Linked DNA regions of Homo sapiens: region 1 is linked to region 2. The links come from fine-mapping of genetic effects on gene expression. A gene starts in region 2. The other region holds a variant in brackets. All regions are shown on one strand. Distances are from middle to middle.

The links. PIP is the estimated chance that this variant, and not a neighbour inherited with it, causes the effect.
Region 1: its variant is fine-mapped to the expression of DPH2 in whole blood (TOPMed, PIP above 0.99).

What each region holds. Positions count from the first base shown.
Region 1 is chr1:43,947,196-43,950,102 of GRCh38, forward strand. It overlaps IPO13 (importin 13), which reads left to right. Exons shown (of 20, transcript NM_014652.4): 1 at 1-489; 2 at 2,222-2,907. The coding sequence starts at 406. Among named protein-coding and RNA genes, the nearest start is that of IPO13, 1.7 kb to the left of the region's middle. The variant G/A (reference allele first, on the strand shown) is at 1,425.
Region 2 is chr1:43,968,415-43,971,316 of GRCh38, forward strand. It overlaps DPH2 (diphthamide biosynthesis 2), which reads left to right and starts at 1,596. Exons shown (of 6, transcript NM_001384.5): 1 at 1,596-1,908; 2 at 2,182-2,294; 3 at 2,552-2,775. The coding sequence starts at 1,762. RefSeq lists enhancers at 1,627-1,906, 2,392-2,902.

The DNA.
Region 1 (2,907 bases), 21 kb before region 2:
CCCAGGCGGGGGTGTTGTGGGTACAGGCCATCGACCCTGTGACCCCTCAAGAGCCAGGGACTCGGTTTCCCCCGCAGGCCTCCCTCCCCTGTGACTCCCTCCACACAGATTCTGGGGACAGAGCTGTTACCTGCCACTAGGATCCCCGCCTGAGAGCTCCTCACTGACGGCTCCCTCCTCGGAGTCCCCTTCATTGGGTCTCCTAAGAGCACCAATTTTGGTCTCTGGCAAGCCTCCCACCCCCAAACGAGGTGGGGAGGCCTCGGCAGCCATGCCCGCCCTGGGCCCCCCCTCACCCCACCACTCCCTGGGCACCCAAGCCGGGGTCTAGCAGGGGGCCAGCAGCCAAGGGGCTGGGGCAGGAGACAGATCAGGGCCCACCTCCCTGCCAGGGAGGGAGCAAAGATGGAGCGGCGGGAGGAGCAGCCGGGGGCTGCAGGGGCTGGAGCAGCACCAGCCTTGGACTTCACTGTGGAGAACGTGGAGAAGGTATGAGGGCTCTGGGGTGGGCACTCCAGTGACAGAGCAGAAGTTCTGGGGACTGTCACTGATGGCAGAGCTCAGGCCTGGGCTGGGTGCCCGCTGGTATGGTGCCCCCAGAGCACCTGGCATTTGCTCTCTTTCTGGGCAGGCAGTATTGCAGTGCCCTAATGGGCTATTTTTGTCTTTCCTTACAGGCAGGTCCCCTGTGGATAGATACTCTAGGGTCTTGGGATGGTCCCTTCAGGGTGCTGTGACTTAGCCTTCCGTCCAGACTGGCTATGTTCCAGCTCCATGGGAACTGCATGAGCAGTGCAGTAGGAAACTGGGAACCCAGGAGACCTGCAGCTCAGTCTCCTGGAATTATACTGATGCCAAACCATCCTGGACCTGGTTTTGTTGAGCCAAGGGCTCAGAAAATAATCTGGAACTAAAACAATCTGGGTTGTTTTGACTCTTTGGAGAAGGGTCCTTCCTTTATTGGATGGAAGCCAGACCAGTCCTGAGCAGGCAGGCCTGGGGCTGTCTCCCTTTGTTTTGTGCTGAGTCCAAGGGTCCTGGCCCTGCTGGGAGCCTTACAGGGCTCCTCCCTACTCGCCTGCCCACATAGCTCCCTGCCATGGCCCTCCCAGGCTCCCCGACTGCCCAGCCCATCTTTCTGAACTGCCTCTTTGGTTCTTTTCTGTATCTGCTCCCTACAACTTGAAATGCAGGAATGCATGCACCCTGGGATGAATGGGGAGATGGGGCTCCCTTACTTGAAAGCAGGGAATGATGTTCACTTGTTATCCTTAACCCCCGTTTGCCATAACAAACAATGAGGATGCATCTCTTCTGCCTGCTTTGGCGTCCCTGAGGGGCCAAACAAGGGCCAATGGCCATAACTGGCTGTCAGGGGTACAAATAGAGCTAAGCTTACTTGGATGGAGCCTGCTTAGGGGTCA[G/A]GGTCCTGGCCATACTCTTCCGCCCCTTGGAGCAGGGCAGTGTTGGCATGGTGGCGCACTGTTCCATGTGCTATTGGGAGATAAATCTCACTGTTTTCTTACTTCATAAAGTCCCGTTGGAATTGAGACCCCGGGGATTCTGCTAGTGGAGAGCACTAAGCTAGGTGTTTGCCAGGGCTGCAGCTATGGCCAAGGCTTCTCTGGATCAATTGGTTGGACATGTGCCCTCTGAGGAGTGTTCTCACCCTCTCCTCCAGCATGTCTGCCCCAGGGCTGCCTGGCAAAAGTCTTAGTCCTGCTCTGATTTCACACTGGCTTTGGTGCCAGCATCTGGACTGACCTAGGGATGATCCTGGGGGAGCTGAAAGGAGCTGTTGGAGTTGATGGGAGCAGCTGTGCCTGGGAGGGTCAAGTCCCCTCAAGCTGTTCCATGCCCTTCTCAGACTTAGCTTCATCCCTGTGAAGCTGTTCCTTCCACCTGGGCCTTGCCCTCAAGTGCCTCCCCTTTGGGGAGATCAGCCTCCTCTTTTTTGCTTTCCTGTGGAGATTCCCTCTCTGAACCCATAATGTTTTGCTGTAAGGAGAAGAGGATATGGTAGAGCATGGGCAAGGTTCAGGCTCTCAAGATATCAGCAGGACCCCAGGCCCAGGAAACACTGCAGAGCGCTGAGCTCTCCCTGCTCAGCCCCCCAGTCAGGGAGAGGGAGCAGCCTTGCAGGACCAAGTCACGCCTCTGTTCTGGGCTCTGGCAGGATCCAGAGTGGCCAGCACCTGCTCAGTCCTGTGCTGTCCTGCAGGCGCTGCACCAGCTCTACTATGATCCCAACATTGAGAATAAGAACCTGGCTCAGAAGTGGCTGATGCAGGCCCAGGTCTCCCCACAGGCCTGGCACTTCAGCTGGCAGCTACTGCAGCCCGACAAGGTACCAGAGATCCAGTACTTTGGGGCCAGTGCTCTTCACATCAAGATCTCTCGCTACTGGAGTGACATCCCCACTGACCAGTATGAAAGCCTAAAGGCACAGCTCTTCACCCAGATCACCCGCTTTGCCAGTGGCTCCAAGATTGTACTGACTCGGCTGTGCGTGGCACTGGCCTCACTGGCTCTCAGCATGATGCCTGACGCTTGGCCATGTGCTGTGGCAGATATGGTACGACTCTTCCAGGCTGAGGACTCACCAGTGGATGGGCAGGGCCGCTGCCTAGCCCTGTTAGAGCTGCTGACAGTGCTGCCTGAGGAGTTCCAGACCAGTCGCCTACCCCAGTACCGCAAAGGCCTGGTGCGGACCAGCCTGGCGGTGGAATGTGGGGCTGTCTTCCCGCTGCTGGAGCAGCTGCTACAGCAGCCCAGCTCACCCAGCTGTGTGCGTCAGAAGGTGCTCAAGTGTTTCTCCAGCTGGGTGCAGCTGGAGGTGCCGCTGCAGGACTGTGAGGCGCTCATTCAGGCTGCCTTTGCTGCTCTGCAGGACTCGGAGCTCTTCGA
Region 2 (2,902 bases):
GCCGCAGAGGAGAAAAGAGGAAAGTAGGACCTAAGGTTGTCCATATGTCCGCTGCTCCCCGCTTACACAGGACCTCCAGCACAGGATGGTCAGGGATCAATCAGCACCAGGGACAGCTCCTGACCTATTCTTGCTTTTCTCCCTTAGCAGTGTTGCCTCCCTTTCTGTCTCCTCAGCTATAGTTTCACCTAGGCTGCCTCTCAGGTACCCCAGGCTTCTCCTCAGTAAGATCTGAAGAGCAGAATGAGTTCTCCCCACTTTTACCCTTGAGCTTTCAATCTCCTTGTGGGTGATGGGGAACTCGTTACTCCCACATTCATCCCACTCCTTCCCTGTTCAATAGATCCGGGTTTGATGCTGGTTGTGCCACAGAATTAGTGTCTTATTACACAAGTAGTCTCTTTGAACCTCAGTTTCCGTATCTGACAGAGGTATGTAAGGAGGGCATTTCAAGTGATGTTGCATGTGGGGGTGTTTGCATATAAGTAAACATGGGGAGTAGAGGGGATGTGAGGGGCTGGAGGGTAGAGGTCTATGTGGTATGCACTGGGGGTATTGCTGGGAAGCAGCAGTGTTTGAGGATGGCTGGAGCTGTGCAGAGCATCTCCTGTGACTTGAGGATGTGCCAGTCATGTCCTTGGTACCACTCGGGATAATTCTTACTCCAAAGACTGTAAACACTAAAAATGAAGTGCCTAATGTACAGTAAGTGCTCAGTATTTGGCTGATTAAATAGCAAATGCTTTCACTGCATGCGATATCCAAAGAACTACTTTGTAAAGTTTTGTATATAAATTAATTAGACCCTCACAACAATCTTATTAAGAGGTACTATTGTCACAACTCCCCATTCTTCAGATAAGGAAATGGGCATAGGGACATTCCTAAGATACTCAGTAGCAAGTGACCAAGCACAATATTCAAACCCGAGCCGGTCGGCACCAAGTTTAAAATTATGCAGTGTAGCCGGGCACGGTGGCTCACGTCTGTACTCTCAGCATTTTGGGAGGCCGAGATGAGTGGATTGCTTGAGTTCAGGAGTTTGTGACCAGTCTGAGCAACATGGCAAAAACCTGTCTCTACAAAAAATACAAAAATTAGCTGGATGTGGTGGTGCGCCTGTAGCCCCAACTACTCAAGAGGCAGAGGTGGGAGGATGGCTTCAGTCCAGGAGGTGAAGGTTGTGGAGATCGCGCCACTGCACTCCAGTCCAAGCAACATAGCGAGACCTTGTCAAAAAAAAAAAAAAATGAATGAATGAAAGAATTATGCAGTGATACTGCCCAGAGGATAGAGTGCACGTGAAATGCTTAACAGTGAAGTCGGTGTTCCTGATGGCCGCGGGTCGGCTGAACCGGACTCCCAGCGCCCGAGAGGAGGCCAGGGGAACTACAATGCCCACAAGGCTCCGCGCCTTCCTCGATGTACTTCCGGCTGGCCTGGGACTCAGGCTGAACATTGGTTCTCTGTGCGGGGCGGTGGCGGGGATTGGAGGGCGGGAGCTGTGCTGACTTAGGATTGGCAAAATCGCTATCAGCCACGCCTCTAAAACCCGGAAGTAACCTCCCCGGTAGTCCCACGTGTAGCGGAGAAACAGTAGTTAGGATGGCTGAAGGGGATACTCACCGGCTGAAGGCCGACTGTGATTCCCCCTACCCCCACAAGGCGATTTTGACCCCCTGAGGGCTGCTCTAGAGGACTCAGGCCCCGAAGCTGTCCCAGGGAGGTCCCCGCTGCATCCCACCACCCAAGCTGTGCCTCATGGAGTCGATGTTTAGCAGCCCTGCCGAGGCGGCGCTGCAGCGAGAGACCGGGGTGCCAGGACTGCTTACTCCTCTTCCGGACCTGGACGGAGTGTACGAGCTGGAGCGAGTCGCTGGATTTGTCCGCGACCTGGGGTGTGAACGAGTGAGGACAGACTTAGGGAAGGGTGGCTCGCCTCTGTCGGGATGGGTCGCCCAGAGGATCCGGATCTTGGGGGATTTTGTGAGGGCGAGAGGGTGGGGGAATCAGTCTGTCCGCAGCGCGTTGACCATCCCTCCCTTCCACCTACTACGTGGGGCAGAGTGCCCCTCTGGGACCAGGGGCTTTGAAGGTTGAGTGGGAGCTCCTGGAAGATTGCTTTAAAGAAGCCCTCAGTGGGAGAGAGGCTGTCCCTGACTCCATGGTTTATGCTTATAGGTTGCCTTGCAGTTCCCTGACCAGCTATTGGGAGATGCTGTGGCTGTGGCTGCACGACTGGAGGAGACGACAGGGTCAAAGATGTTCATTCTGGGTGACACAGCCTACGGCAGGTGTGAACTTGGCCTTAGGTGGGCCAGGCCTGGGGATCCGGGGCTCATGGGGTTTTACGTCTATGACAGTGATTGCCTTCAATGGTGGTGTTTCTCCTTGATGATAATGGTAATGACTCCCCTTCTGATGCTAGCTCCTTTCATTGACAATGTCTTCCTTTAATGAAACCATTTTATTCACTGACCACATTTCCCAGTGATGACAGCAACTCGCCTCCAGAAGAGAACCCATTTCTCTGATGCTATCTTCCCTGCAGCTGCTGCGTGGATGTGCTGGGTGCTGAGCAAGCTGGAGCTCAGGCTCTCATACATTTTGGCCCTGCCTGCTTAAGCCCTCCAGCCCGCCCACTGCCCGTTGCCTTCGTGCTTCGTCAACGTTCTGTGGCCTTGGAGCTCTGTGTCAAGGCCTTTGAGGCCCAGAACCCAGACCCCAAAGCGCCTGTGGTGCTGCTGAGTGAGCCGGCCTGTGCCCATGCCCTGGGTAAGGGGTTTTGCCTGTGTATGCACAAAGGGTGAGCCAACTGCTTTATGCCTTAATTTCCCCATTTCCATATACCATCCATAGAACTCTTGATATGGGCTTGGCCCCAGCCTACTGGGTCATATTT